Linked DNA regions of Homo sapiens: all the other regions are linked to region 4. Evidence: fine-mapped expression QTL. A gene starts in region 4. Each other region holds a variant in brackets. All regions are shown on one strand. Distances are between the middles of the regions.

Region 1 (6,358 bases), 32 kb before region 4:
ACCATGCAAAACCCCTTAACCTGGTTCCTCACAGTGACAAAAAAACAAGGAATTTTTATCACTTTTCCCAAATACATCAGCTATATCTAAGAACAAGGGAATGCAAAACGTGACCCCTGGGTCTGGGCTCTGGCGGTCCCAGGTTCCTATTCTGTGACTGAATTACACACAGCTTCTTGGAAGAGGACAGGACAGGTGGTAAAACCTCTTTATCAGGGATTGGAAGAAGCCAAGGGCCGGGGAAGGGAGGGGCCTCACTTGAAGTCATACGCTGGACCGAGAGCCCAGGACTCTTGACTTCCATCCCACAGAAAATTTTCCATCCCACCTGACTGCCGTCCTCTGGGAACAAATCCTGGAAACCAGATGTGGCCGCACGTGAGAGCCAGGTCTCCTCCACAAGTGTTAGAAAGCAGGGGAGTGGAGACTCCCCTGCTTATCAAATGAGTCTCAGTTTACACATGGAGAAACCGAGGTCCAGGGGCATTGAGTAATTGTCCTGGGGTAGGAGTGAAACCAAAGTGGCCTCACTTTTCGAACTTCCAGCTGACTCCTCTTCCCTCCTCCCATTTCAAACAATTTAACCTAAGTGTGCCCTAGACGCCCACCTGCCTCCACATCAGGCCAGGCCAGGCCAGGCCAAACCTATCACAGGCCAGCAACTCCCCTAGTTGCCTTTTACAAGGGATTTGACTGGAAAACAAAAGTTTTTAACTGGCCTTGAGGATTTTATTTTCCAGTTATCTGCCAGGTCGGTTTCTCCTTATGAAAAACTTAGGCACTTATGGTCCCATCCCAATATACAGAGTTCTGCCTTTGCATTACTGTCCAGCAGCTTCCAGATCCCACTGGAAATGATGCAGTGGAGCGCTCTTCTCACATACTTTAGCCTGAGAGTGTGGCAGGGGCAGCGGGGTGAGCCAACTCTTGCCTCAGTCACAGCGTCTTGATGTTACAAAGGGACCAGCAGGATCCAAACCTCTAAGAGCCCCACCCCCTCCAGACACAGCCTCTGCCCTAACATACACACTCTGGGACTCTTCCTCCCTCTCTTTGCTTTCTCTCCACAAAGAGCTAGGCCTTTGGCTCAGCTGCCCTGACCTTGATGCAGGGCTGGTGAAACTCAATAGCTGCCATTTCCCCAGTCAACTTTACAGGGCATTAATGCCGACGTCCAAAGGCACTCCTGTAGCTGAAACCCAATAATTGCTTGTGGTGGTACCTATTTGTCATAGCAGCACAGTCTCTCTCTGGTATTCAAGGTGGGGACAAACCTTCCCTCCCTGGCTTTCTCCAAATCCTCCTTTCCTGCCTCATGTGCAGGGAAAATGTTCCATGTTCCTGTTGTGCTGGGGACTGGGTATCCTGAGACAATGACGGTACGATCCCAGCCCAGAGGGGCTCACAGCCACAGGGGAGATACACATCTCAGTGGTGTGGTCACCTTACTCAGCCCTGGGCTTCCTGGAGGAGGTGGTCCTGAACTGAGTCTGAGGGACCAGGGAAGAGCCAGCCAGGTGAAGAGAGGGAGTGCAGGGGCATCGCAGGGAGAGAGAAAGCACAGTGCAGCAGAGGCCCAGCAGATGAGGGCGGCATGGCCTGCTAGGGGAGGCATTAGGGTCTGAGGCTGCAGTGTTCCGAAATGTCTCCTTCTGTGGGCATCACCCTCGTTCCAGCCCTTGTGAGTCTTGCCGGGACCAGCAGAGAAGCCTCCTGGCTGGTTTCCTGCTTCAGGCCTCTCTACCTCTGCTCCTTAGACTCCACTGACATGTGTACCTGACCACATCACTCCCCAGCATACTCGGAGATGCTCACCAACTTCCCTGACCTACGAATTCTTGACCAATTCATCAGCCAGGCATGAAGAGCTTTTCATGATTTGACTCCAACCTACTCCCACCTCTCCAGCCTCCTGAGCCTCTTCCCTTCATCAAGTAGCCCATGTTCTAGCCACTCCAGGCTGCTCCATATTCCACAGCCACGCCCTGCACTCTCCCACTGCCATGCCTTTGCTCAAGGCTGTGCCTTCCACCTGGAATTCTGTCACTCCAGCTCCCCTGCATTCATCTTTCAAAGCCCTTCCCTTGGGCACCCTGTTCAGCCTTTGCAGGATTCTCCAAACTGACCTGGTGAATCTTGCTCCAAACTCCCCTAGGCATCTTGCCAGTTCTTGAATAATGCTCATCTTACTCTGTGGAGCATATCTATGCTGTATCTCTCTCCCTAAGGATACTGGGTGCCCTTCAAGGGCCAGCTGGGATATATCTTAATTTTCTCTGAATCCCCAGCACCAAGCCATGAGTGCTAAGAGAATGTGGTCTGAGTTGTCCAGTCACACAACACTGATGCTCCAGCTGGGAACAGGATGGTATGACTTGGACTCCCTTCAGGCCCATGTTGCACCTGCTGTCCCAAGCCATTGGCTTTTCCACCCAGCTGCTGTCCCCAATTGGGTTTTGGGGAGAGGGACATATTATGAAAGATGTCAGAGTTGGGGAGTGTCTAGGATGAGACCAAGGTTCACTGTCGTGGGTTTTGGGAAATGCCAAGCTAGAGAGTGAGACCTTTATAATGTTTACTTTGAGGGCCTGGATTTGGTTAAAGTCCTGCCAACTCCTCTCAATCCATCTCAGGGCTTTCAGCAGAGTAGAACATCAGGCCATCACACTAGTGAACCCACAGTGACAGACTCCAAATCGTCCCCGATTCAAGCTTCCCCTTCTTTAGCAATAAAAGAAAGCCTCCACTTTTTAGTTGAGCTCTTGGCTGCTCAGATTAAAGGCTACACTTCACAGGCTCCCTTGCAGCTAGGTTGAGTCATATAATTAAGTTCCAGGCAATGATATGAGAAATGTCCAGTGGCAATTTCTGGTAACTTTCCTTAAAAGGGACTTGAATCATGGCTTTTCTCCTTTCTTTTATCCCTCCCCCTCCCCATCCCTTTTTCTCTATTTGGATGCCTGGAATGTGGCTATTATGGCTATAGGGCTACACCTTAGGAATGGCAGAAAGATGAGCTGGACAAA[G/A]TCTAGGACTCTGAGAAGTCTGGGGAGCTGAGCTCCATCCCAGCCCTAGATTGCCTACCTGTGGACTTTTACTTGAGGGATGGATAAAACACTGCACAAATCACATTATTCTGAGTCTCTGTTACTTGTAGCGAAGCTGCACCCTACCTGATAACCTGGGTTCTCAGCCCAGGGCTGTGAGGCCACAGACGGGGCACTGGTGCTCTCTGGTTTTGGATCCCCCATCTGTAAAATGAGGGTCCAGAGCCCTTTTATCTTGAAACCTCAGAATAAAGGTTTAAACTCCATATGGAAGCAGTTTCTTGCTATTCAGTTTTACCATCACTGGGTATGATCATTCACTTTCATTCAACTGAACAGACACTGCATTATGGAGGTGGTCTGTCAGGGCAGTCACATCTGGTTGTGCAGGTTGTGCACTGCACTAAGCCAAGGACATTATTCACTCTCTAGTCTATGTGAACAGTGTCTCCTGGAGAAAGTGTCCAACTTGCACAACTATACCTGGCTGCACTGTATCTGTGGCCATACAGTATGGTTCCCAGTCTCAAAAAACTTAGATTCTAGTGGACAAATCATATACTCAGGCTCACATTTATTAAGGACCACCACGTGCCAGGCACTGGGCTAGGTGCTTTTCATCTAATCACACATGTATATGTTTGTGTATGTGTCTATTTTTTATGCTAAAACAAACACCTGCCATAGGAGGTAGAACCAGAGCTGCAAACTGAGAGGCCTACAGGCCAATTAAAAGCTAACACTTGGTTGGGTTTGTTTGGTCTGTGCATTTAAATAAGCTGTCAGCATTTTAAAATAAGGAGCTTATACATTTTTTAAAAATCCAGATTTCCAACATCTCTGGAAACATTAGGTGACGTGGCAATACCAGGTCTGCACTCTCATACCGGCAACAATTAGTGGAGCTGAAAATGCTGGGCGCTTTAGACAAACTCCCATTTGCCTCAGTCCCCACCACTCCCTGTTTTCTCTGACACAGAGGCCACGGTCAGTTACTACATAGCACTGGTTTTGCTGTTGCTTTTAGTTCTGAAAATGTAAATGGTAAGTGAACATTTTCTTACATACACATACCTTTATAAAGTGAGAAAGTAATAGATAAGCCAAGATGACCACATGGCTCAAGAAAATTGACCCATCTTCCTTCCTTCATGTAGGTCACTTACATGATGTTGTGGATACTTGGTTTGCTGCCTCCCAATAGAAAGCGCTCAGTAGAGTGGCAGAGATGATGAATAGAAAGGGAGACAGAAAGGCAGGGTTTAAATTTTATCTGTAGTGATTTCTTTTTTTTTTTTAAGAATGATCAGAACCAAATAAGGCAAAATTTTAACATTTGCTAAATTCAGATGATGAGAAAATAGGTATATACTGTACTCTCCTATGTGTTTAAAATGTTTCCTATTCAACATGTCAAAATCAAATAGGAAACAGCTCAGTGTTGCCAGGGTGGAGCAGGTGCTGTGCTAGGGGTGTGAAGGTGAAAGAGTCTAAAAGGCTTCCCGAGGGAGGGGAGGAAAGGTCAAGCCTTGAAAAATGTGAGGAAGTGAGGGGTTCCAGGTCGAGGAGGTTCCCCAGCCAGAGGAGGGGTTGGGAGAGGTGGTCATGGGTCCAGAGGGCAGAGGGTAGGGTGGGGACACACAGATGCCTGGCCTGACTTGCCCTCACCCCACCAGGCCCATCCTCGGCTCTGTGCACAGCCAGCAGTGTTTCTAAGGATGTGTGCCTATTTTTAGAGGAGAGATTTATTTCTTTCCATTTCAACTGTTTACTTCTGTCCTGGGCTTGCGATTCTGCCGGTTTGTGTTACAAAGGAGAATCACGGCCCTGTGGACCAAACTTGGCTGCTTCCTGGATGGCAAGAGTGTCTTTGCCTTAAAGGATATGATTTGGGGCACAAGTAGGGAGGATTTTATGATCGTCTGATGGGAAGCCATGTGGAGTGACAGGAAGTACCAGGTGGGCGCCTTGGCTCGGCCGCTGACTTGCTGTGTGACCTTGAATGAGTCCTTACCCCTCTTTCCACTTCAGGGTTTTGTTGATGCTTGGATGTCTCATCAGTGAAATGGTAATAATGACACCTCACAGGATGGGTATGAGGATTTGATGAAATACATAAAACACCAAGTGTGTCCAGGACAGACTCCAAAATCAGGCTTTCTCTACCGGTACCGCGTATGTAGATGCCTGGGGTGGGGTACTGTTAGATGATTTCTAAGTGTCCTTGGAGCTCTGGGATTCTCCAATTCTGTTTTCCATATTTCGTCCTGCAATTCATGGCCCTTTGTTCTCAGAACTCTGTTTTTGAGATGGAGTCTTGCTCTGTCACCCAGGCTGGAGTGCAGTGGCATGATCTTGGCTCACTGCAACCTCCGCCTCCCAGGTCCGAACAATTCTCCTGCCTCAGCCTCCCAAGTAGCTGGGATTACAGTTGCGCACCACCACGCCTAGCTAATTTTTGTATTTTAAGTAGAGATAGGGTTTCTCTATGTTGGCCAGGCTGGTTTTGAACTCCTGACCTCAAGTGATCCGCCTGCCTTGGCCCCAAAAACTGCTGAGATTATAGGCATGAGCCACCACACCCAGCCTGTTCTCAGAACTCTTGACACATTATGGTCTAAGGAAAGCAGGGTCTGTCTGAATTCTATCACTTAATAGCTGTGTGATTCTGGGAACCTATTTCTTTATCTACAGAATGACATTAAACCTCATCCTATGAGGATCAATCTTGTAAGATCCTTGTAAATATTTTATGAAATGATGCCCATAAAATGCTTAGCATAGCACCTGGCATGTAAGAACACCTTAGCAGAGGCCAGGTGCAGTGGATCACATCTGTAATCCCAGCACTTTGGGAGGCCAAGGGGTGGTGGGGGGGGTGGGTGTGGATCACCTAAGGTCAGGAGTTCGAGACCAGCCTGGCCAACATGGTGAAACCCCATCTCTACTAAAAATACAAAAATTAGCCGGGCATGGTGATGTGCGCCTGTAAGTCCAGCTACTTGGGAGGCTGAGGCAGGAGAATCACTTGAACCTAGGAGGCGGAAGTCACAATGAGCCGAGATCACGCCGTTGCACTCCAATCTGGGCAACAACAGTGAAACTGTCTCAAAAAAAAAAAAAAAAAAAGCCGGGCCCGGTGGCTCACGCCTGTAATCCCAGCACTTTGGGAGGCTGAGGCAGGTGGATCATGAGGTCAGGAGATCGAGACCATCCTGGCTAACACGGTGAAACCCCGTCTCTACTAAAAATACAAAAACAATTAGCCAGGCATGGTGGCGGGCGCCTGTAGTCCCAGCTACTCGGGAGGC
Region 2 (6,358 bases), 23 kb before region 4:
GCCTTTCTCAAAGGCCCTCACTCGGCATGGAATTAAAAAAATCCAGAGCTCAGTTCCAGTATCACCTGCTCTGTGATGCCTTGCACCAGTAAGAGTTAATCTCCTGGCACAGCTTCCTGTCTGCTCTGTGTCAAGCTCAGTGTATTATGCCTGTGTCCCCACCAGCCTGTGCTCCTGAAAGGCAGAGTCCCAGCCAGGCTGCCCTGTTGGTGCCCAGCACAGTGCTCGGCAGGTAACCGAGTCACATTTATTGAGTTAACTGGAAGTGGCTACATGCCTCTTTTGTTCTCCCTTTATAAAGTTGTTTGTTCTTGGAATTCTGTGTGACAGTGATCTAGGATAGAATTAGAACAGAATAATTTTGCAGCTTGATTTTTTTCTTGCCTACATGGCTTGTTTTTACTGAAACACAGGCTAATGGGGAGAGATGATGCGGGGGAAGAAAGAGAAATGCAAGGCTCTTTCCACCAATGCCGACTTTTGATCAACTTGAGCAGCCTCATCAGGAAACCATCTTCTCCTGGCAGGCAGGGGAAGATCGTGAATATCAGGAAGAGGAGGACACACTGTTGGAGAGATGTGTAATTCTATGGGGCCTGGGACCCAAGAGCCCTAGGCAAGGATTCTGAGTTATCTGGAATGAAGCCACTTAATCACACCTGGGTATAAGACCAGATTATAAGTCAGGTTAGCTTAACCCTGAAAATGACCAACCAACTCTGCTATTCCATGGCTGGGGACATTGAGGTCTAGGAAGGATGGCAGCTTGGTCCAAGGTCACATGGAGTGGAAGAGACAGGGTTGGGATTGGAAGCGAAACACCTAACTTCTAGTCCTGCATTTTTTCATCAAACTGTGCTCCCGGGATGTTAGCAGTGACCATCTCTGGGTGAGTGAGATTGAAGTGTTGTTTTCTTTATGGATCACTATTAAACCAGAGTTGAGCAATGGCTGGTTTAAAAAAAGGGTGTGATACATTCCATTTTTAATTAAAAATATATAACATGGAACATTTACTCAGTTCAGTAACTTTGATTATCTACCTTCTCTGTGCTGGTTATTGACCTGGGTGCCTGGGATATAGCTGTAGGATGAAGACCCTTGTCTAGGAGGCCACCTACGAACCCCTCTATGCCCATGCTCACAGTTCTAGTGTGACTTGCTAAACCACATACACAACCAAAGAGACTTTTGACTCTTGACACTGTGTACCCTGACTGCAGGGATGAATTCTGAGTATTAAACACACTTCTAAATGTGCCAACTATGAAATGCAATGATAAAACATCAAACATTAAATGAGAAGAATTATTCTGGTCCTTTATTTCTCAGCTCATTCATTCCATGACACATGTTCTCCACCATCCTGAAGCTGCTGGCTCGATATAACGGGGTAACGGCCTTTTGAAGACTCAGTTACAGTGCCAGCTAGGTGGCCACACCTTACAGGCCGGGGCAACATTCTCCAGAAGGCTGTATATGCTCTGAATCAGTGGGCAATTGCGGATGCCATTTCTCCCATAGCTAGGATTCATGGGTCAGGGAATCAAGATTGGAAATAGGAGTGGCACCACTCACCATTTCTCCTAGTGATGCACTAGCAAAACTTTTGTTCATTGTTCCCATGACCCTGTGGTCTGCTGGCCTAGAAGTCTTAGTTTCAAAGGACCAAAGTTCCACTAGGAGACACAACAATTCCATTAAAATGGAAGTTAAAACTGCCACCAGGCCACTTTGGGCTCCTCATGACTCTGAATCAATGAGCAAAGAAGGGAGTTACTGGGCTGGCTGGGGTGACAGATGCTGACTACCAAGGAGAAATTGGATAGCTATTGCACAAGGGAGGTAAGAAAGTATGTCTGGATACAGGAGAGCCCTTAGGGCGTTTTTTAGTATTACCATGCCCTGTGATTAGGGTCAATGGAAAACTACAACAAACTAATCCAGGCAGGACTACTAATGGCCTAGGCCTTTCAGAAATGAAAGCTTAGGTCACCCCATCGGGTAAAGAACCACAACCAGCTGAGGTGCTTGCTAAAGGCAAAGAATGGGGAATGAAACAGGGTAGTTATAAATACCAGCTACAACTATCTGAGTAGTTACAGAAATGAAGACTGTAATTGTCATGAGTACTTCCTCCTTATTTTATGAACACTTGTATTGTGTGTGTGTGTGTAGCAAATATCTTTGCTTTTTCCCTCTCTTATTCCCTTATCATGTAACACAAGATTGTTTGATACCGACTTTACTGTTATTGGTGTATTGGCTTTGTATAATAGGATTTAAGTATCATTAATTTTACATTATAATATTTAAGTTACAGGACAGCAAGGAGAAGAATAAACATCACTCATGGACTTTACCTCCTCTTCTGGGGAAGGTGATAGTGTGTTTTCCATTGTACCCAGGATAGTTGTATCATGTTAGGCAGAATTATGACATCGTTACTGTCTTTATTTGGAAATTAAGTATGGTTTAAAGAGATGTATATGTGTGCCAAGTTGACAAGGGGTAGACTGTGATGGTTAATTTTGGGTGTCAACTTGACTTGGCCATGGGATGCTCAGACATTTGGTCAAACATTTTTCTGGGTGTGTCTGTGAGGGTGTTTCTGGATGAGACCAATATTTGAATCAGTAGACTGAGTAACACAGATTATTCCCCCTGATATGGCGGTGGGGGGTGGGCATCCAATCAGTTGAAGACCTGAGTAGGGAAAAAAAGCTGACCCTCCTCCAAGTAAGCGGAAATTTCCTCCTGCCTGACTGCCTTGAGCTGGGACATTGGCTTTTTTCTGCCTTCGGATTCAAACTAAAACATCTTTTCCCAGACCCAACTCTTCCTGGGTCTTCGGCCTGCTGGTTATTTGTATTTGTATTGGAACTGTGCCATTGGCTCTCCTGGGTCTCCACCTTAGCAACTGCAGATCTTGCTGGTCTCTATAGCCTTGCAAGCTAAAGCCTTATAACAAATCTCTCTCTCCCCTTCTCTCTCTGTCTCGACACACACACACACATACACACACACACACACACACACACCCTATTGGTTCTCTCTTTCTCTGGAGAACCCTAATACAACACATTAAAAGAAAAATCTGCAAAGGCAAAGTTATACCAATGTCATTGCCATGGAAGGAAAAAGGAAGTGGTGGCTTTAGGAAGCATCCACCTGTCCCTCCCCAGGTCCCCTCGCTAGTGACAATGTGCTTCCCTTTAGCACCTACTCACATCAGGGTCCAGCTCATCCAGCTCATTTTCCAGGGTCCTCAGCTCTTCCTCTGTTAGGGCTCCAAGGATTTCATCTTCATCCAGGTCACGGTATTTCTCTAGTTCTCGTCTGTACGACATCGTGGAAGAACTTGTCTGTGTCTCCTGAATTTCTGTGCT[G/T]AGTAATACCTACCAGAAAGACAAGAACCTTAGAAAGACCCGTCTCAGATTTGCTCTCTCAGAGCAAATGGAGGCTCATCGTTCACACAGCGGCCTGGGTACATTTTATGAATTGCCAGGATAATCATTACTATGGTGGAATACTACACTAAGTTTGGCTAATTCTCTAATAAAACTGTGCAAGGTAAAGTCCTGAGAGCATGTAAGTTAATGAATTGTAATTGGTTAGAATTGGCATGGACATTAATTACAAGTAAATGGGCAATTGTAAATGGCTTATGAGTGCCTGAAAACAATGTTATTCTTTAAGGAGTTCAAATACTTTTCTGTGTAACTCTCCACCCTTCACCCTACACCCCAGAGGGAATCATGAATGCTGGAAACTCTGCCAAAACTGAGTTTAAAAGGGGCAGGGGAGTATCGGTGGTTAATTAAGCACCTACTGCATACAGGCCCCTCACCTACACCATCTCATTCAATCCTTACAAAAAGTAGTTCATAGAAATAGCTAACTTTTACTACTGCATATCAAGCTGTGTGTTCAGTACTTCACAAGGACTTTCTCATTTAACCTGTGAGGTAGGTATTACCATTATCCCCATTTTATAGAGAAGGACTTAGAGAGATTAAGTGACTTACCCAAACGACACTACTAGGAAGCAGCAGATCCACATTTAAACTCAGGTCTGCTGGCTGCAGACCTTCTCTGCGGAGTCACCCAATGGCGTGGCCAGGGGACTGCCTAGTCCAGAGCCCCCATTTCCCCCCAGAGGGAGCCGGTTCAGAGGGAAGAATTGGTTTGCCAGCAGGACCCTGGGGACCAGGGTTCACCTCTGCTGCTTCCCAGACTGCTCTCTCTTGCTGGAGAAGCCTACTGTTCATTTCCCATTTCACAGATGACACCCAACGCATTTGGACCCTGTGTGTTTGGACCCTGTCTCTGCTACTTCCCATAACCATGACATTTTCAGACCTGTTAACTCATCTGAGCCTCTCCACACACACTTTTTTTTCCCCTTTTTTATACCTTGAAGATCTTCTTGGATACTAATAGGTCTTTTAATTAAAACATTTTTATTAGTGAAAAAACTAAGGGATGGCCTAGGGCTTGACTCAGGACCCCTGACATCAGTCCGAGGGTGCTCTCTACTCCACCACACTGCCTCCGCTGAGCTAGGAGGGACAGCAGGACCTCGAGCGCTATTGTCCTCCAGCTTGGCTAAATGTAGTACTGTGCATAGAATCAGTGTGATGAGTTATATGTGTCTCCTAAAAACTCATATATAAGGCTGGGTGCAGTGGCTCATGCTTGTAATCTTAGCACTTTGGGAGGCTGAGGTGAGAGGATTGCTTGAGCCCAGGAGTTTGAGACCAGCCTGGGCAACACAGTGAGATCCTGCCTCTACAAAAAATACAAAAATTAGCTGGGTGTGGTCGTGCAGCACCTATAGTCCCAGCTACTCAGAAGGCTGAGGTGGGAGGATCGCTTTAGCCCAGGAGGTCGAGGCTGCAGTGAGCCATGTTCCCGCCACTGCATTCCAGCCTGGGTGACGGAGTGAGATCCAGTCTCAAAAAAGTAAATAAATAAATAAAATACAAATAAAAGTTCATATGTTGAAGTTCTAACCCCCAGTATCTCAGTAACCTAGCAACACATTGCAAGTTAGAATGTGACCTTACCTGGAAATACGGTCATTGCAGATATAAGTAGTTAAGTTTAGTCAAGGTCTTACTGGATAGAGTGGGCCCCTAATCCAATATATTTTACCTGGGATCCTTATAAACGGGAAATTTGGACACAGATATAGCACACTAAGAGAATATCATGTGACAATGAAGGCAGAGATTGGGGTGATGCTACTACAAGCCAAGGAATGCCAAAGATTGAGAGCAAGCCACCAGAAGGCAGCCCCAGAAGGAACCCACACTGCCGACACCTTGATCTCAGACTTCTAGCCTCCAACACTGTGTGACAGTACGTTTCTGTTATTTAAGCCACGCTGTGTGTGGAACTGTGTTCCAGCAGCCCAGGCAAACTTATGTAACAGATATGACCTTCTTCACAGCAACGTACGTATTTAGACCTCCATGCAAGCCAACCAACCAACCCACCCGTGGCTCATCTGTGAAATGATGATGGAATTTTCTAAAGTAGAGAAAAATGAAAACTAGGAAAGGACAGTCAACCAATCGATCCAAAACCTGGGAATAGTTGTTAATGAAAAATAATTAAAGGCATCTAAAACAAATGAAAACCAAAGTTCACTAAGCTAACAGAAAAAGTCTCTGTCTCAGAAAGCAGAGAGCACATTTTATCAGTGTAAGCCTGTGCATGTGTCGGCCTATTTGCAGGAGAAATCCAAGTATATGACAGCTGGCTTGATAAGAAGGACTTGCTTCCCAAATACAGAAACCTCAGTGCCATCCTTTTCTCTCAGAATGGCTCAGCTTGGCCTAACGTCCTCTTTGACCAGGCCCCAAGAATGCAATGCTCAGACCATAAATGGCCCCCCATCACTTGATCCATTTCTATTACTTCCAAAGAAAGCACAGCTGACAGTGCTCTGGTATCGACGAAAAAACCTTCCTGAAGGCCCTCAGAAAACAGCCTAATTTGGCTTTTCCTAAGTGAAGCCAGGATGGGGAGAGGATCCATGATCTCTGTGCTGGGGCCAAGAGGGACTCCAGTGAAGGGCTTGGAGTCTTCCAGAACCAACTCACAGAGATGTCCAGAACTGCCTTAAAACTAGCATCTCTTAGAGAGGCTGCAAACACAAGCTTTTGGTGCTCAAACGGGTTTTGGGTTATATGAAGTTCCCTAGGACTCTGGACTGCAGGACTTCTTCAAAAATGTTGGTATGTGGGTATACAATGGAGTCTCCAAGAGGAATAGGTTGCAAGCAGAATTCCCCCAGTCTTTTTTATCATAAAAGCACGTCTCTGAGAAACTGCACCCGGAAATGGAATCT
Region 3 (6,358 bases), 73 kb before region 4:
TCAAAGAAGCTTCGGCCGGGCACGGTGGCTCACGCCTGTAATCCCAGCACTTTGGGAGGCCGAGGCGGGCGGATCACGAGGTCAGGAGATCGAGACCATCCTGGCCAACATGGTAAACCCCATCTCTACTAAAAATACAAAAATTATCTGGGCATGGTGGAGCGCACCTGTAGTCCCAGTTACTTGGGAAGCTGAGGCAGGAGAATTGCTTGAACCAGGGAGGCGGAGTTTGCAGTGAGCTGAGATCATGCCACTGTACTCCAGCCTGGTGACAGAGTGAGACTCTGTCTCCAAAAAAAGAGATGTCAAAGAAGCTTCATACCTGCATCTTTCTCTGACTCCGGGGACCCTGAGACTAAAAGGACTCATTCATTTTATAGAAGAGAGAACCAGTGGCTGGGGAGCCACGACTAAAAACCAGTTCTCTGACTTATTTTTCAAGTAACTTATTTAGTGATTACTGCATGCTAAACAATGTCATAAACATTTTACAAAAGCTAATTCATTTTTTCCTATCAATCTAAGGAATTTTTCCTGTCAATCTAAGGAAAACTACTATCGTTATTTTCATTTTATTTTATTTTATGTTATTTTTTGAGATGGAGTCTTGTTCTGTCGCCCAGACTGGAGTGCATAGCACGATCTTGGCTTGCTGCAACCTCTGCCTTCTGGGTTCAAGCGATGCTCCTGCCTCAGCCTCCTGAGTAGCACCACCACGCCCAGCTAATTTTTGTATTTTTAGTAGAGATGGGGTTTTACCATGTTGGCCAGGCTGGTCTTGAACTCCTGACCTCAAGTGATCCACCCACCTCAGCCTCCCAAAGTGCTGGGTTACAGGCATGAGCCACTATGCCCATCCTCATTATTTTCATTTTATAGGCAAAAAAAATTGAAGCACAGAAGTATTAAGAAATTTTTCCCAAATCCTAGCATGGGTCAGTTGCAGGACCAGGATTTGAATACAGGCAGCGAGCTCTAGAGTCTGTGCTGGTTTCCACCTCACTTAAGTGCCTCTGAGAATGACCAGAAGGCAGAAGTAGGACTGACGAGAGGAACTACACGCAGATGGTGTTTGGCTCAGCATGGAGGAATGCCTCTGACCATTAGAAGTGTCCACACGCTGAGGAACTGCCTGGTAAGGTAGTGAGCTGCCTGTGCCTGAAAGTGTGTAAAGGGGGAGAGACCAAGGGGTTGGTCATGCCCGGACTGGCAACAGTCTCTGGGCAGCAGAGCCAGGGACAGGATGGTTGGGAAAGAACTCTCATACTCCTTCAGATTTGCTTGAGAAGTAAAAAACCACTTGTGAATAAATATAACCACATTATTAACAATTCATATGATATTAACACAGATTGAGTAAAAGGAAAGAGTCTCCCTCACCCGATTTATTCCCAGTCCCACCCCCTTCCGTAGAAGTAACCACCATGGGCCAGGCGCGATGGCTCACGCCTGTAATCCCAGCAATTTGGGAGGCCGAGGTGGGCGGATCACAAGGTCAGGAGATCGAGACCATCCTGGCTAACATGGTGAAACCCGGTCTCTACTAAAAAATACAAAAAAAAAAATTAGCTGGACGTGGTGGCGGGCACCTGTAGTCCCAGCTACTCGGGAGGCTGAGGTAGGAGAATGGCGTGAACCTGGGAGGCGGAGCTTGCAGTGAGCCGAGATCGTGCCACTGCACTCCAGCCTGGGCAACAGAGCAAGACTCCGTCTCAAAAAAAGAAAAAAAAAAAAAAGTAACCATCATGGCCAATGAGTTGTGTTTCTATGCATGAAGTATATGACAGAAATGTACAGGGATTTGTTTTGTTTTGTGGTACTTGTTTCTTGTTTAAATGAATTCATACTATACTTACTGTTCTGCAACTTGCCTTTTTCATTTTATTTTAATATTTATTTATTTATTTTTTTGGAGACTGTGTCTCACTCTGTTGCCCAGGCTAGAGTGCAGCAGCACAAAGCAGTGCAATCATAGCTCACTACAGCTTCTGACTCCTGGGCTCAAGTGATCCTCCTGCTCAGCCTCCCAAGTAGCTAGGACTACAGGCACGTGCCACCATGTCTGGCTAATTTCCTTTACTTTTTTTTACAGAGATGGGGTCTTGCTATGTTGACCAGGCTGGTCTTGAACTCCTGGTCTCTAGTGAGCTCCCTCCTTGGCCTCCCAAAGTGCTGGGATTACAGGCATGAGCTGTCATGCCTAGCCCACCTTTTTCATTTAATATTTTGCAGAGCTCTTTCAGAGTCAGTATGTAGAGAATGACCTTATTCCTTCTATTGGCTTCACGGGACGCCCTGGTGTAGATGGATATTTAGGTTACTTCTGTTTTTTCGTGTTACGAACAACGTGGCAGTGGCAGGGGAGGGAGGGGGTATTCCTCAGGCTTCCTACGGAAATCAAAACTGCTAGGTTGAAAGATAGGCGCTTTCAAATTAAAATTGAGACTGCTCTGACAAAAGGATGTAAAAGTCGGCATGCCCTTCAGCAGTGTGTGACAGCTGTGTGTCCTCACACCTTTACCATGTCAGAGCATTACCCATCAGATGAGAAAGAGATCAGATTTGCTCTTGAACAAAATTACCAACCAACACCTTAGGTGTTACAAGGTGTATCCTGGAGCCGGTGGCTCTGAGGCTCCCTTTCTGGCCAGACGCAACAGGAACATCAAGAATCTCACTTTGGACATTTGACGGAGCCAATTCTGGCCATTCCCAGATGATATGGACAACTGGGAATACTTCAAAACACAACAGAAAGGAGGCCTGGGAATTAGGTTATCCAACTCCAGAGTCCCAGACCCTAACTGACATTAAAATTCCCTCCATCTCCCAGCTGTTTACACACCCCCAGGATGGGAACTCCTCCCCCTTTGAGATACCTGCTCCATCCTGAGGTAGCTTTGCTAGTTATGTGTCCGGAATTGGTGGGTTCTTGGTCTCACTGACTGCAAGAATGAAGCCGCGGACCCTCGAGGTGAGTGTTATAGTTCTTAAAGGCGGTGTGTCCGGAGTTTGTTCCTTCTGATGTTCGGATGTGTTAGGAGTTTCTTCCTTCCGGTGGGTTTGTGGTCTCCTGGATCAGGAGTGAAGCTGCAGGCCTTCGCGGTGAGTGTTACAGCTCTTAAGGCGGAGCCTCTGGAGTTGTTTGTTCCTCCCAGTGGGTTCGTGGTCTCGATGGCTTCAGGAGTGAAGCTGCAGACCTTCGCGGTGAGTGTTACAACTCATAAAGGCAGTGTGGACCCAAAGAGTGAGCAGTGGCAAGATTTATGGCAAACAGAGAAAGAACAAAGTTTCCACAGTGCGGAAGTGGACCCGAGCGGGTTGCCACTGCGTTAT[C/T]CGGCAGCCTGCTTTTATTCTCTTATCTGGCCCCACCCATATCCTGCTGATTGGTCCATTTTACAGAGAGCCGACTGGTCCATTTTATAGAGAGCTGGTTGGTCTGTTTTGACAGGGTGCTGACTGGTGCGTTTACAATCCCTGAGCTAGACACAAAAGTTCTCCACCTCCCCACTAGATTAGCTAGATACAGAGTGTGGACACAAAAGTTCTCCATGTCCCCACCAGAGTAGCTAGATACAGGTGTCAATTGGTGCATTTGCAAACCCTGAGCTAGACACAGGGTGCTGATTGGTGTGTTTACAAACCTTGAGCTAGATACAGAGTGCTGATTGGTGGATTTGCCATCCCTTAGCCAGACATAAAGATTCTCCAAGTCCCCACCAGACTCAGGAGCCCAGCTGGCTTCACCCAGTGGATCCTGCACCGGGGCCGCAGGTGGAGCTGCCTGCCAGTCCCGCGCCCTGCGCCCGCACTCCTCAGCCCTTGGGTGGTTGATGGGACTGGGCGCCGTGGAGCAGGGGGCGGCGCTTGTCGGGGAGGTTCGGGCCGCTCAGGAGACCACGGCGTGGGGGAAGCTCAGGCATGGCGGGCTGCAGGTCCCGAGCCCTGCCCCGTGGGGAGGCAGCTAAGGCCCGGCGAGAAGTCGAGCACAGCAGCTGCTGGCCCAGGTGCTAAGCCCCTCACTGCCCGGAGCCGGCGGGGTCGGCCGGCCGCTCCGAGTGCGGGGCCCGCCGAGAGCACGCCCACCCGGAACACGCGCTGGCCCGCAAGCGCCGCGCACAGCCCTGGTTCCCGCCGGCGCCTCTCCCTCCACACCTCCCCGCAAGCTGAGGGAGCCGGCTCTGGCCTTGCCCAGCCCAGAAAGGGGCTCCCACAGTGCAGCGGCGGGCTGAAGGGCTCCACAAGCGCGGCCAGAGTGGGCGCCAAGGCTGAGGAGGCGCCGAGAGCGAGGGAGGGCTGTGAGGGCTGCCAGCATGCTGTCACCTCTCAGTTACAGAGGTCTTTCTGGTCAACTCCTGTGACACAAAATAATATAGATAATTCTTACTGTGATGACTTAATATCTGCAAAATTCTTTGATCCTCCCCCCTCCAAAAAGTGGTGTCTGATTTCTCTCCCCTTGAGTGTGGGTTGTGCTTTGTGACTCACTTTTAATAAACAGAATATGGTGGAAATGACTTTGTGTAACTTCCGAGGCTGGGTCATAAAAGGCATCTGAGGCTTTCTTTTTTCTCTGACTTGGCTCACTCACTCTGGGAGAAGTTAGCTGCCATATTGTGAGGACACTCCAACAGCCCTAGGCCGGGTGCACACGGTAAGGTGCTGAGGTCTCCTGCCCACGCTGTGAGGGAGCCATGGTGGAAGCAGTTTCTCCACCTCAGATCATGCACTCTGGGCGAAGTCAGCCAGCCACACTGCTCCTGGATTCCTGGCCCTCAGAAATGGTGAGTTAATACATGTTTATTGTTTTATGCCAGGATTCTGAGGCTGTTTAAGTTGCTATATTTGGGGATAATTTGTTACACAGCTACAAAAAACTGATACAATCGCAACGTTGAGTAAAAAAAGCCAGACACAAATCATCCAATCTGGGAAAACAAGACAGCACAATCCATCTACTTTAACTTCTCTTCAAAATATTAAGCACATCCTCATTGTCAAATATTGGAATAAAAAGTGGGGAATCTGGCCACTACCCCAGACATTATACATATTCTCATTTGTGGGACTCACCCCAGGCCTTGTCTGGCCTGGGGAGCAGGGTCCCTGGTGCCCTGGGGGTCCTGGGGAAGAGCAGCTCTGTGGGGAGTTTGGAGAGTTTGGTGAGAGCAGCACAGAAGCCGTGTGTGGAGATGGCCTGCTTGGCCTGGGCCGGGCCTGCAGGCTCCCTCGGGGCCCACAGGGTTTCTCCCATCCATCCATCAGTGCAGCCAGGATACTGCAGCTCCAACCGAGCTCTGCCACTAACCTGGCCTGTGGCCTCAGGCTAGTCCCATCCCTTCTCTCATCCTCAGTTTCCCCGCTTGTGAAAGGAGGACTGGGCTAGATGTTGTCTCAGTGCCTTCTGGCTCTGGGGTCTGCTCTGCCCTTTCCCAATTCACCATGGTCTTGGCGCAACCACAGGTGGCAACAGAACATTGCTTGGAGATAGAGAGACTATTTGAGTCAACAAACAGCTTCAAAGTCCTGGTTCCCAAACTGTGTCCTGAGCCAGCTCCGTGTCACCCTGGGCAGAACTCCCCAAGTCCCTTTCCCTGGCCGTATAAGGAGAAAGAAGGACAGAGACTTGCTGCCACAGGTTATAAGCACAGGACTGAGGAAAAAGCTCCCGTCTCCAAGGACCTCGGTGACTAACCAGGAATGAGGAATAAAGGAATAAATCAAATGCCACTCGCCACCTCCTCTGTGTCACACTGCCCTGCCTCCCCCCAGCCTGGGGCTGGGGCACCTGAAGGGGAGGCACAGGTGGCCTCCTCCTGAGCCTGAGTCAGCAGAGCCCCCTCCCTGAGACCTGCCTTCAGCCCTTCCCCTGCCGGACCCAACTCCAGTTAGGCAGGAGCGCCTCCCCACAGCCCCCTGGTCCTGGAGGCCATAGCTCCTGGCTGATCTCCTGGGCCCTGATACCCTCTCCTTGCCCCCAGTCCCCTCCCATCCAGCCAGAACCATCTTCCCAGAGCACAGCACAGCCCACTTTCCCTAAACCTACCCATTCAAAGCTCTCCGACTCCTAACCCCCTTTCTGGCTTTCCTCTGGGGGTACCGTGAGCCTGTGTGGATGGGCTCCATGGCTTTCCCCACTCCTCTCTGCACCTGGGATGCCATGGCCTCCATGTCACCTGAGATACTTTTCACCCTGTGGGTGGGAAGTCAGGGTCTACCCAGCATCTACGGGTTTATCTCAAAATCTGCCTCCTCCAAGCAACCCTCCCTGATTGCTATTCCTGACTAAGACTGCTCCCTCTGATGGACCTCACAGCCCACTGTCTGGCTGCTGGAGCACCTGGTATGATGGTCATTT
Region 4 (6,358 bases):
AGCAGCCCAATAATTGATTTATCTGGTGTTCTGGCTTTAAGGGAAAAGTAAACTGGCCTCTTTAGAAATGTTGGCAGCCTGGCTGGTCCATTAGTAAGACTGAAAAGTCAAAACATTGACTGGAAAAGGCCATTACGACCGGGCTCAGCAGGAGTCATCGATAGATGATGTCATTTCAGAAATAAATAAGCCAAGGTTATGAGGCCCCAGAGCAGGGTCAAAACACTCTTCACAGCCCATCACCATCCTCCATCGCAGATACTGGTCTGCCAGAGACATAGGGGTCTGAGCCAGGATCTGCTTCGTTTTACCTTTTTTTGCTCATTCCAGGGGATGAAGGCCACCTGCAGAGTCTGTGACATTCTGCAAGTCACTAAGGAAGGTCCCCAATCCTCATTATGGGCACACCTTTTAGATTCCCCTTTAACTCTCTCCCCTCTCCTGGGTTCTTCTCACTACTTGCCATACTCTTTATCCTAGAATGCCTGCCTCCCTTCTGTTCCTTGTCCTCAGTTCCTGCTACCTTCCCTCTCCCTTCCTTTCTCATCCAAGCTTTTAGAAAGAGTTGCTGGCTCTGTTGAGAGCCTTCTTCAGCCTACAGCCTGAAGAAGTGGAGAACTTCTTCAGCTCCTGTTAGCTCCTGCCTTTCCCCCTCACCACAACGAATACTATCATTGCAATATCAGGCTCTGGGCTGAGGGCTTGCCCTGAATCATCTCACTTAATTCTCACAAGCAGCCCCTATGAAATGGGGCTATTGTTGTCTCCATTGTATGAGGAGAAAACGAGGCTCAGACAGGCTGGGTCACTGGCAGATCTCATTTTTTGAGCCTGCTGCAATACCCTGGTCTAAGTCACTCATGATCCCTGCCAATCCTGATGGTCTTTTCCCAGTCCTCATCCCCCTACTCCTGTCTCTCCACAGCAAGTGACACTGCCCACCTCTGTCCTCCCTTGGCACCTGGGAAAGCCACTGTCTCTCACTCCTTCCCCAGCTCCTCCTTACAGGATGGGTCATGCTAGAAAGGCTTCCAAGGAAGACTCTAAGCCCTCTCCACTCCAGGTCCACTAGAGACCACCTTGTCTGCCCCCTCATTGCTCAAGGTTCCTCTGAGTGGGTGGCAGAGTTGGGGCTGGAGCCAGATATCCTAACCTCCAGGCCAGTCCACCTCCCATTGCTCAGAGCTGCCACACCTACTTTGTGTTTTCTGTTTTTGCTGAGCTGCAAGAAAACGCCCTACCCTGAAGGAGGGAGAAGGTGTGAGACCCTGATAAGGTGGGGCGGAGGCTATTTTTAGAGGACACTGGCTTTCATCTTAGGCTGGGAGAAACTCAAGGGTCAATGACTCTCTAAAACACGGGTTTGTAAGACTAGCTCATTAAAGATAATACACCAAAGTGACAGTATTCTTGTTTTCACTCTGCCTGTTGGTTGTGTGGCTCTAACTGATGGAAACTTTATTATCTGACTCCATTTCCCGTTAATTCTTTTTTCTGTAAGTCTTTGAGATGGCTTTAGAAAAAAACACATAACAGAAAGTAAAGTAGAAGCAAAAAGGAAACTTCAGGATGAGGGCGCTATTGTCCAGACAAGGTAAAGTCCAGAACAGCAGCAGATTCAAGAAGAGGGGGCATTGATCGGGTGCTCCCAGAGCTCCCGGACCTGCCTGAGCAGTGGGAAGGGTGCGGAAAGAGATGGGAAAGGCTGGGAGACTGCAGAACTTCTGGCGTGACCGGCCCTGTGTGACCTTGAGCAGGGGGCTCTGCGGCCCTGCACAGAGGACAAAATGGCAGTCACCTCTGGAAGAAAGATGGGGTGGGGGCCCTAGGGGTTCTCACGCTGAGGGCCCAGCACCTGGGTTCAGGGTCTGGTTCTGCGATTCAGACACGGAGGAGCTTGGGCCAGGTCGTCTCCGAGAGTCTGAGGGCATAGGGCGAGGGCTGGAGACAGGGTCTGTAATAGTAGCGGTGGGTGAAGGGTGTAGGAGGGGGCGGCGCTGCGCAGGTTGGAGGACGCATCATAGGCCCGATATAGACCGGGAAACTGTGGCCAGGGAGCGGCTGTACTGGAACCACTGCCCCTGCCCAGCTCATCGCATCTGAAGCTGCGTGGCTCACAGGCTGCTTTGCCGGCTACGGAGCAGAGAGATGCCCATAGGCACCCCAAAAGTGCACTTCCTAGGGTTGTACGGCTTAGGATATCCGACGGCCTTAGTGAGTCCCAGGATACGATCGAGTCTGGGGCAGTCAGTCTCCGATTTCTGCAGCGTCTCCGCATGTGCGCGGCTGGGACCCCAGCGTCCCAGGCCCGGAGAGGGTGAACAGGTGTGGGGAGCGCAGGCGGCCAAGAGCGCGCCCTGCAGCTCTCAGGGCTTGGGCTCCCAGCTCCATCGCGGCTACCAAACCTCGCCCCTACAAATGGGAGACTGAGATCCAGAAACAAGAGGGGGATTGCCAAGGCCATGCCGAGAGCCGGCGACAACCTGGGGCTCCCGCCTCCAAGCTCTTTCCAGCTCCACTTGGCCGCGTAGCGCGTGTCGTGGTGCTTTAAACCTTGTCTCTCCCAGTTTGGGAAACTTCACCTGCCCCAAACACTCTCAGCGCGAACCTGGGATCCACGTCCAGTCGAGCCTTTACTCCCCCACTCCCACCCCCAGACTCTTGCAGGCGGAGAAGAGGCCGCGCCCCCGAGCCCAGCTCCGGCTGGCACCTGTACCCAGCTGAGCACCCCGCGGGCTCAGAGCCCCGCCGCGCTGGAGTCCTGCGGGTGGCGGGGGCGCCCCTCCGCCAGGACCCCAGCCCGGGGCGCCGTCTCCTCCAGAACCCCGGGTCCTTCTCGCGTTCACAGACGCGGTGCGGAGGTCCAGAGCGGAGGGCGCCCTGGCCAGGGCTGCGCGCGCGGGGAGGCGGGGACGGGAGCGCTGGGCTCGGAACCCCGAGACCCGGGCTCCCTAGCCCCAGAGGCAACCCGAGGCGGCAGCTATTTATAGAGGGAGCCACGCTCAGTCCCTCTTGGCGGCGGCGGCGACAGCTGAATATTTTGCCCAGATATGGCTGAGGCCCCGGAGCGGGGGCAGGGAGCCCCGCGAGCGCGAGGGGGACCCCAGGCGGGGTGGGGGCTTACCCGGACGCAGAGCTGTGGGGCCGGCGCGGACGCGGGCTGCGGAACAGGCGCGGGCGGCGGGCAGATGGACGCGGGCGGAGGCCGCGGTGCTCCGGCGGGCAGCGGGCGGGCGAGCGCAGCGCGGGGCTGGACGAGCTCCCGGGCGGCCGCGGGCGGGCGGGAGCTGTGGGCTCGGGGGTGGGAGCCAGGGGCGGGCCCGGCTCGGCTGTCACCGCGCCCCGCCCCGCCCGCCGCCGGCTCCCTCCTTCCCCCCCCCTCCACTCGGGGGCGCCCGGGCGCAGCGCACTTCCCCGTCGGGACGCGGCCCTGGGCCGGGAGCGCAGGGGAGTCGGGCTGCAGCCGAGCGAGCGCGGGCCCCTGCCTGGGTCTCCTCCGCTTCCCCGCTGGTACCAGGAAGAGTTTGAGCGACGGTAGAGTTATGTGGGAAAAGGTGGGCAGATTTGCATTCCTGTGGGGTTTAGAATTTAAGATTTTGAGAATCTGAAGTCCCCAGAAGTGATGGACCAAAGCCAGCTAAGCAGCTGCTGCACCTTCACCTCTGATTGAAGCGCCGCTCCGTCCGTTTCCCAGCAGCGCGGCCAGGTGGGCTCTGAGCCGCAAGCTTTAACCGCGATCGTTTTGTCTACACGTAGTTCCAACACGCAATCGAATACATTCTCTCTACACTGAGAGCGAGTGGAGTGTCTAAAATACTGATTTTAAATGACCACAACAAAAAGACCCAAGTTCTTAAAAGGCTTTTTTTTTTTTTTTTTTTTTTCAGAACAAACCACTTTAGGTGGTTTATTCCAAATACAATTTTAAGTGTTTTAATAAACAAATGTCTCATGCAAAGGAATTTATATAGAAATAGGAAAACGTCTTATTTTGGATTATTATGGGAAAGCTTTTGGTAGGGTAGACCTTAATAAAATCAGCTCTTAATCCTGATGTATAGATTATTAATGAGAAACACTCATTAACCAAATTTTGTTTCTCAAGAAAATGAATTTCTCTAAAGTCCTCACAATGAGAACGCTCTTTTCAAGGGGTATATGCCATACATTTAAAAATAAGCAGTGATCTAATATTTCAGATTATTTTAAAACATTTTTGTTGTGAATCGAACATATAAGAACATACAACATAAGTTATGTTGTATGTGTAAACAAAATAAATGTGCAGCTTCATGACTTTTTACAACGTGAACACCTGTGCAACCAGTCACTCAGAGAACATTGCCTACAGCCCAGAAGCCAACCTGTCCCTCCTGGGTCCCAACTCCCTTCTAAAGATGATCACTTTCTTGACCCTTACGGTGATCATGTCCTTGTTTTTTTTCTTCCCTCTGTAGTATGTCTTCATTTGTTCAAATCTGTTGTTAATCTGTGGTTTTATGCAGCTGTAGTTTTTCACTGTATGAATATGCCACAGTTTAAAAAAAAATCCATTTGACTATTAATGGGCATTTAGGTTGTTTCCAGGTTTTAGCTATTACAAATAGTGCTGCTGCGAACATTCCTTGCCAGAATCCTCCTGTCCACGCGCACAGCCTGCTGTTGGAAGTGCTGGGTGATAGAGAAAGCCTAACCTCAACTTCGGCAGAGATAAGCCTGAACTCTTCCAAAGTTATAGTACCATTGTACAGTGCAGTTTCCCATCTTCAACAACACTTGAAGTTACAAAAATTGAAACACTTTAGAAATTCTGATATGTGAGTAATGGTATCTCATTGAGGTTCAAACTTGCATTTCCCTATATCCTAATGTGTTGAGTATCACTTCATATTTATTGGCCAGTTGGATTTGTTTTGTGAATTGTTCAGATTTATTGTCCATTTTTCTTCTGGATAGTCCTGTGTATTGAATAGATTCAATGGTGTGTGTATCCTCAGTTATATTCCACTCTTTTGCCTTTTCACCTTATTAACGTATTTTGATAAACAGGTGTTCTTAAATACAGTCTGGCAATCTTTTCCCTTATTGGCAGCACTCTGTGTCCTGTTTAAGAACTCTTTCCTGTTCCTGGGTTATAAAGTTATCTTCCTATGTTATCTTCCCACCTTAGCCTTTCATGTTTAGGTTTTTTGTTTGTTTGTTTTTGTTTTTGTTTTTGAGATAGAGTCTTGCGCTTTGTTGGCCAGGCTGGAGTAAAGTGGTGTGATCACGGCTCATTGCAGCCTCAACCTCCTGGGCTCAAGCCAACCCCTTAACCCCCACATCAGCCCCTCAAAGTGCTGGGATTACAGGCATGAGCCACCATGCCCAGCTATTTAAAAAAATGTTTTTTGTAGAGATAGGGGACTTGCTATATTGCCCAGGCTGGTCTGAAACTCCTATGCTCAAGCAATCCTCCCGCCTCAGCCTCCCAAAGTGCTGGTATTACAGGCGCGAGCCACTGTGCCCAGCCTCATGTTTAGTTTTTTGTTTTTTTTTTTTGTTTGTTTGTTTTTTTTTTTTGAGACAGGGTCTCTGTCATCCAGGCTGGAGTGCAGTGGCGCGATCTCGGCTCACTACAACCTCTGCCTCCCAGGCTCAGGTGATCCTCCCACCTCAGCCTCCTGAATAGCTAGAACTACAGTTGTGCACCACCACATCCAGCTAATTTTTTGGTAAAGACAGGGTTTTGCCACGTTGCCCAGGCTGGTCTCAAACTCCTGGCCTTAAGTGATCCGCCCACCTCAAAGTGCTGGGATTACAGGCATGAGCCACCATGCCCGGCCAATGTTTAGGTTTTCAATCCATCTGGAATTGACTTTTGAATATGGTATGAGGAAGGGTTCATTCACATTTCATTTGTTTGTGTCACACTGACTTAGCACTAATTTTGTGGTTACATCAAGAAACAATCTATTGCTTTATTTTAAAAAGTAATGGACTCCTCCCCCTCCCCCTCCCCCTCTCCCTCTCCCCACAGTCTCCCTCTCCCTCTCCCTCTCTCTCCACGGTCTCCCTCTGATGCCCAGCGGAGGCTGGACTGTAGTGCCGCCATCTCGGCTCACTGCAACCTCCCTGCCTGATTCTCCTGCTTCAGCCTGCCGAGTGCCTGGGATTGCAGGCGCACGCCGCCACGCCTGACTGGTTTTCGTATTTTTTTGGTGGAGATGGGGTTTCGCCATGTTGGCCGGGCTGGTCTCCAGCTCCTAACCACGAGTGATCTGCTAGCCTCGGCCTCCCGAGGTGCCGGGATTGCAGACGGAGTCTCGCTCACTCAGTGCTCAATGTTGCCCAGGCTGGAGTGCAGTGGCGTGATCTC
Region 5 (6,358 bases), 92 kb before region 4:
CTCCATCTGCTGCTTGAACTCCTCTGCCACTTCTTGCCAAATTTGAACATTTCCATCATGTTTTTGGAAAGCACTTTCTATTCATTTAAATATTCGGCAGCATGTACTGAGTGCTGTGTGCCAAGCACAAGAATCAGAAGTAAAGACACAGTATAACAGGAACCAAGATATACAATGTTTGAGAACTACTGTTTGAGAAATATGAAGTATTAGAGATGCCCTGGCAGCTCTCTGAGGTATGAGAGGCATAAAGAATGAAGTGGTCAGACCTTCCCAGGTGGCAACTAACAGGTCAGCTGAATTTTAAACAACAAAAAGGTAGAGGATGGGAAGGTGGGGGGCATTGGGAGTAAAGACCCTCTAAGGGTAAGCTTTTCCTTGGTCACTTGGGGGCACTCAGGCTACCTGGAATGGTAGTAACATGGCAAAGGGATGGCTTGTTGGAGATGTCAAGAGACGACCTCCTGATGGGACCATCTCCCAATGTGGAGCACCCAGGCACTGGAGCCACATTGCCAATTCAAATCCCGGTCCTGCCCACGGATTGTGGGTAATGTTAATTACCTACTTCCCTAGACTTCTGTTTCCTTCTTGTAAAGTGTGGATAACAATAGCACCTGTCTCACCTGGTTGTGGGGAGGACTACATGAGCTAGTGAGATGGGAAGTATTCAGAACAGTCTCTAACACACAGTAAGTGCCATGTAAGAGTCAGCTATTATTAAGAGACTTGGGAGTCATTTCAAGGGGCCTGACTGAGAGCAATGGGAGGCAAGTGAGGGTTCTAAGTGGAGGGGTGACAAGGCAAGCTTCGGAAGGAGACTTGGGATGAGTGCCAGGGGTGCCTGCCCTGGAGGAGCTGGGGGCCTGAGGATGTTGGAGGAGATAACTGTGACGAGGGCTCAACATACACGGCAGGACACTGGGATTGGCAAGGAGGTGACTGGCTGGCTGGGGTGGAGGCAGCATCTAGGAACAGGCCCAGATTTCTGGCTTGGGTGGCTGTGAGGAAAGGAGTAGCCTTTTCTTTTTTTCTTCTTCTTTTTTTTTTGATGGAGTTTTCTTGTTGCCCACACTGAAGTGCAATGGTGTGGTCTTGGCTCACTGCAATTTCTGCCTCCCGGGTTCAAGCGATCCTCCTGCCTCAGCCTCCCAAGGAGCTGGGATTACAGGTGCCTGCCACCATGCCCGGCTAATTTTTTGTATTTTTAGTAGAGACAGGGTTTCACCATGTTGGCCAGGCTGGTCTCAAACTCCTGACCTCAGGTGATCCGCCTGCCTCGGCCTCCCAAAGTGCTGGGATTACAGGTGTGAGCCACCGTACCTGGCTGCCTTTTCTGAGATAGGTTTGGGGGACTATGATGAAACTGATTTGGGATCCAGCAGTCCCACTTCTGGATATTTACCCAAAATATTAAAATCAGTTGAAAAGATGTTTCACTCCATGTTCATTGCAGCATCATTCACAATACCCAAAATAAGGAATCAACCTAAGTGTCTATCAACAAGAATGGATAAAGAAACTGGGGGATATATGCACAATGGAGTACGATTCAGCCTTTTCTTTAAAAAAAAAAAAAAAAAAAAGGAAATTTGTTCATTTGCAACCACATGAGTGGAATTGGAGAACATTATACTAAGTGAAATAAGCCAGCCACAAAAAGACAAATTATATGTGGAATCTAAAACAATTGACCTCATAGAAGCAGGGAGTAAAACTGTCATTACAGAAGCTGTGGGTGGGGAATGGGGAGATAATGGCCACAGGATACAAAAATCTCAGTTGGACAAGAGGAATAAGGTGTTTTATAAAGCTCTGTTACACAGCATGGTGAATATAGCTAATAATAGTGTATTATACATTTCAAAATTGCTAAAAAATAAACGTTCTCACCACAAAAAGTATTTGAGGTGATGATATGCTAATTCACTTAATTTAATTTTTCCACATTGTATTCATAAATCATAACAGCACTTTGTATCACATAAATATATACAATTACAAATTGTCAATTGACAATAAAATACATTTTTTTTAGAAATTGCTTTGCAGTGTGCTATGTCTGGGCTGCTTGCTGCAAAGGTCTTCCCTGAGAATACTGTAAAATGGTGACTCCCAGGAAGGGATGTTTTCTGCTTTTAAACATGTTACTCTCCCTCCACACGATACCCCAACCCACACAACTGTCTTAACTCACAGGCTGCAATTCAGATTTTGCTAAGTGGAGAGAGCTGCAGTGGCAGATTTAGAGGACCTGAAGTGCCATGCTTGGCCTGGCTCTTTGCTATAAATAGTGTGGAGATGACAGTCATCTGAGGTATTGCTGTGGGAAAACGCAGATGGGATCCACAGCTCGGCTCCTCCCTGGCACCCTGCACTCACAGAACGCTCTGTTTAGAGCTTGGTGCCCAGGGTGGGGAGGACCGAAGACGCACTGGTCAGGATGCATCCTGGGCATACCGCCTGTCTGCAGAGCCAGTCGCTGTCCTCATAGCCTTGGGGACTCAATGTCCCCCAAGGAGGAGCCCAAGTACTGCAGAGGCCCCAGCCATGGGCAAAGAGCCAGCAGAGGCAGGTGAGAATGAGCAGGAGGCCTGAGAGGCCTGCTCCCTTCCCAATCTGCGCTCCCTGCTGCCAGGCCTGCTAACAGCCTCAGTCCCGAGGAGGAGCTGGCAGGAGGCTTTTACGATACAAATATTCAGTTGGAAAACATGAAGTCTGTCTGCTTCACTGCGGCATTAATGTAGGATGCAAATAATCTGTTGTAAAGTCAGGAGGAAGCTGAGGCACTGCCATAACAAACATTTCTCTTACAAAAATTAGCAGATGGGCGCAAATTTCATTTTAAAGCTAGAGATCCTACATCACCAAGTAGCACTCTGTTCCCTGTAATCACTGAGATGATTCATCTCTAATTCCTTCTGTAGGAAACCCCAAGGGAGCAGCTGCCCACAGTTCCCTGGGGTAACCCAGAGGCCCAATTTTATCACCTGGCATCACCGTCCAGGAAACTGCCACGGTCTCTGCTTCCCACCTGCTTCCATCGCCAGGCCCCTGAGCTTGACATTAAAGGCCTTGGGCTGCAGCCACCCAAACACCTACCCAGCCCCATTCCTTGTGAACATCCCATATACTTTCAACTGTCCTGCCTTTGCTCATGCTGTTCCCTCTGCTTGGAATGCCCTTCCCTTCCTACTTTGTGAACTCATTTTTCCTCCTAGGTCTAACTCCTTTTAACAGTTCCTCCAATCCTTTTAGATCCTTCTGTCTCTCCTTTGTACCCCCAGCACTACTTCCTAATACTCCTAGAACCCCCAGAGGGATGCCTCTAGACCTCCTCCATCAACCTATCTCTTCCTTTCAAGGCTGGCTAAAGCCCCATCCCCAACCAGCATGCTTTGCCTAACTGGCCTCTGTCTCAATAAATCATTTCCTCACTTTGTTTAGATAGAATTTGTAGGCATTCTTGAATTTTTAGGCATGCCTTTGAGTCTTTTTTTTCCCCTAAAAGGTTATAAAGCTTCTTCAGTCAGAGGTAGCCTTTCTGCTACCTCTGATATCACCTAGCACAGTCCTAGGCACACAAAAGTTGCCCAGAAAATGCTTGCTGTCACTAACAGCTGGTGTGACCTGACTGAGCTGCTGCCTAGACCCCCTACCCCCACCCCAGGCTCCAGTTTCTTTCTAAGGGAACTGGAGGGATAAGCTCTAAGTCCTTCTGGTTCTACCATCCTACATTCTTACAATGGCCTCTGAAAGTTCTTGGTGATGGGAGTCAGGCCTGAATTTTG[G/T]ACTCTCAGATTCACAGGACTGGGAGAGTTTTCAAAGGCCATTTTGTCCAACTCCTAGATGATGCTGGTATCCCCCTGCAGCACCTGTGACCTCTGCTCATCTAGAGCCTCTATCCCCAGAAACAAGACCTCCATACCATCATGCCATTGGAGGACAAAAACTGGGTTAGCCCAGAGATAGGAGCCAAGGGGCACAGAAGAAACTTAACTGAGGGGGAAACAAATATGAGATTATTGCATATAGAATAGAAACGCAAGGCTTCTCCGTGCTGGTACTGCAGCCAGATCACAGCTGCTGGCCTTCTCCAACCATTCAGTTTAGCTATGACATCTGTGAGATGATGTAATAATTATGATTCTTATTTGTGTTTGTTCTTATTTTATTTCAAGTAAGGATACTTCTGATAAACCAAGACTCTGCACACATTTTAAAAAATGGGCTTTTCTAAACCCGAGGCTCTAGAAAATAGTGGCATTTGCAGTGAGCAATGAATGAATAGCTCCTGGGCTGTGACATCCTTACAAGCAGGAACCTATAGAATTTTGGTATATGTTTGTGGAATTTAATAACTCGATCTAAAGTGTGTGTGTGTGTGTAATCCTGTGGTTATCTGTGCATGTGGGGTCTGTGCACACCTGCCTTGAGCATTCACTCCTACACACTCATCTCTGTTCTTCGAGGGCTTCCAGGTAGTGACCTGGCCTCAGATAAATCACCAGGAAGTGACATACTTTGAGTGGAGCATTCATATTAGGCTCTTTGCATTTTATCGAGGGTTGGAAACCATTGTGTAGAGCAGGTTTGAATCTGATGAGAAACTCACTGAAGATGCTGTCCTTTAAAACACAAGTTCATTTCACAATGTAGTCCCAGAAAGAGGCTTTTCTTTTTTTTTTTTCAAACTCATTATGCTTCCTTCCCTTCTGTGATAAGAATAATGTAACTTGGCTTGGCTTCCTGCTGTCTTGGTTCTAGGAAACTCAGGGCTCAATATAATCATCATTCATGTTAATGATATAGACCTACTGCTTTTCTTGTTTTTTTTCCCCCTCTTGTTTTCCTATAGCCTTGTCAGTCATGCTCCCTTTGTTGAATGCTATATCAAATTCTTTTTTGGCAGCCAGCAGGAATATACATAAGCAATAACTACACAGAGCTTGTGAACAACCGGCATCTGCAAGTAAGATCATGATTGCTCAAACTTCATTCAGTTGACTTATATACCTATTTGTTCATATAGGTATATAAGTGTTCATTATCAAAAAATATTGTGATATTTTCATTTTCTTAATTTTTTTATTTTTTAAAATTTCCTGATAATGTCTCCTTCATAATAATTTTTCCTTTTAGAAAAAAACAAACTATGCCTTTAATTGAGATTACATTAATATACCCTACTTTTACTTTACTATGAAGTTGACATTTTCAACTTTTACCTTAAAATCAATGTGAAGTCTCCTAGGCTCAGATTTTGGTAGTCCTATTGGAAGGTAGTTTTGGGATTTGGGGCTAAATCTAGACTGTGTGACCTGGAGAGGACGCTATGAGTTCAGAAAAGGGTATTCAGAAGAGGAAAATACTCCCGGCGAGACTTGTGCCCTCCCAAATTTCAGTTCCTTCTGCAAACACACTTAAGTGTGCTCTGGGCCCAGCCTGTGCTGAGCTGTGCTTTGAGGAGGAGAGGACTCAGCCTTAGCTCCTGAAGTCAAGGAGCTCGTAGTCCAGGGTGGAGATGAGGTACAAACACAGAAAACAAGGAAGACGCGATCAATGTGAAAATCAAGGCTCAAGAAGACTCGGAGAGGCATCTACAGAATTTTCCCTGACATCCCCAGCACAGGTGGAGGGAATAACAGGACTGCGGGCAGGGCAGGAAGCATATTTCTACTCACCAAGGTCATTGTTGTTCATCATTGCGTTGGATGCCCGAAGCCGGGGTCCTTGCTGGGTAAAGTGGTAGCCGAATTTGAGAAGTGTTGCGTTTTTTTCCAACATGCTCACAATCTCCATTTCCACTTTGTTGCCCAGGGGCTGGCTCTTTAGTCAAGAAAAAATAAAAAATAAAAAATAAAATCACCACTCATTCCATGTGTACAGTGCCTAAACCACCTCTACCTGCAGAAACTCTTGAGTAGTGGGAGGGGATTTTAGCCTCCTCTCCAAGAGTAGGGAAATGGAAGTTTAGAGAAGTTGAAAGGTCACACGGCCAGGAGCAAATGAGCTGGGATTCAAATTCAGGTCTGCTGGATGCCAAGAACAGATCTTTTCACTGCTTTACAACAGCCTCTCTCTGAGCAGGTGCCCAAGTAAGAGCTCCACGACAGAAGAGTATTTGAAGGAGGACATTCAATCATCTAGTCCTAAGGAGACTTTTAAAACCCTGCTGTCCGGGCTATACCCCAAACTACCTGAATCAGAATCTCTGGGGAGTGGGACTCTGATGGCTGTGTTTTTAAAAACTTCTCAGGAGATTTCAATATGCACCCAAGTCTGATAACCAGTAATTTAGTCTCTTCAAATTATAAATGAAAAAATTGAGGCCCAGAGAAGGAAAAAAGGTTTTCCC

Evidence for each region. PIP is the estimated chance that this variant, and not a neighbour inherited with it, causes the effect.
Region 1: its variant is fine-mapped to the expression of TMOD1 in cerebellar hemisphere (GTEx, PIP 0.92).
Region 2: its variant is fine-mapped to the expression of TMOD1 in whole blood (TOPMed, PIP above 0.99).
Region 3: its variant is fine-mapped to the expression of TMOD1 in blood mononuclear cells (TOPMed, PIP above 0.99). The same link has a PIP of 0.9 or more in NK cells, T cells, Th1/17 cells, follicular helper T cells, monocytes and whole blood.
Region 5: its variant is fine-mapped to the expression of TMOD1 in whole blood (TOPMed, PIP 0.96).

What each region holds. Positions count from the first base shown.
Region 1 is chr9:97,530,606-97,536,963 of GRCh38, reverse strand. The region is part of intron 2 of TMOD1 (tropomodulin 1); the gene reads right to left. Among named protein-coding and RNA genes, the nearest start is that of TMOD1-AS1, 17 kb to the right of the region's middle. RefSeq lists a silencer at 5,960-6,118. The variant G/A (reference allele first, on the strand shown) is at 3,027.
Region 2 is chr9:97,521,181-97,527,538 of GRCh38, reverse strand. It overlaps TMOD1 (tropomodulin 1), which reads right to left. Exons shown (of 10, transcript NM_003275.4): 2 at 3,231-3,398. The coding sequence starts at 3,350. Among named protein-coding and RNA genes, the nearest start is that of TMOD1-AS1, 7.9 kb to the right of the region's middle. The variant G/T (reference allele first, on the strand shown) is at 3,390.
Region 3 is chr9:97,572,008-97,578,365 of GRCh38, reverse strand. The region is part of intron 8 of TMOD1 (tropomodulin 1); the gene reads right to left. Among named protein-coding and RNA genes, the nearest start is that of TSTD2, 58 kb to the left of the region's middle. RefSeq lists a silencer at 5,316-5,555. The variant C/T (reference allele first, on the strand shown) is at 3,337.
Region 4 is chr9:97,498,570-97,504,927 of GRCh38, reverse strand. It overlaps TMOD1 (tropomodulin 1), which reads right to left and starts at 3,262. Exons shown (of 10, transcript NM_003275.4): 1 at 3,125-3,262. RefSeq lists a cis regulatory region at 1,259-1,276, an enhancer at 1,195-1,339 and a silencer at 2,726-3,445.
Region 5 is chr9:97,590,762-97,597,119 of GRCh38, reverse strand. TMOD1 (tropomodulin 1) reads right to left here. Exons shown (of 10, transcript NM_003275.4): 9 at 5,685-5,829. Among named protein-coding and RNA genes, the nearest start is that of TSTD2, 39 kb to the left of the region's middle. The variant G/T (reference allele first, on the strand shown) is at 3,792.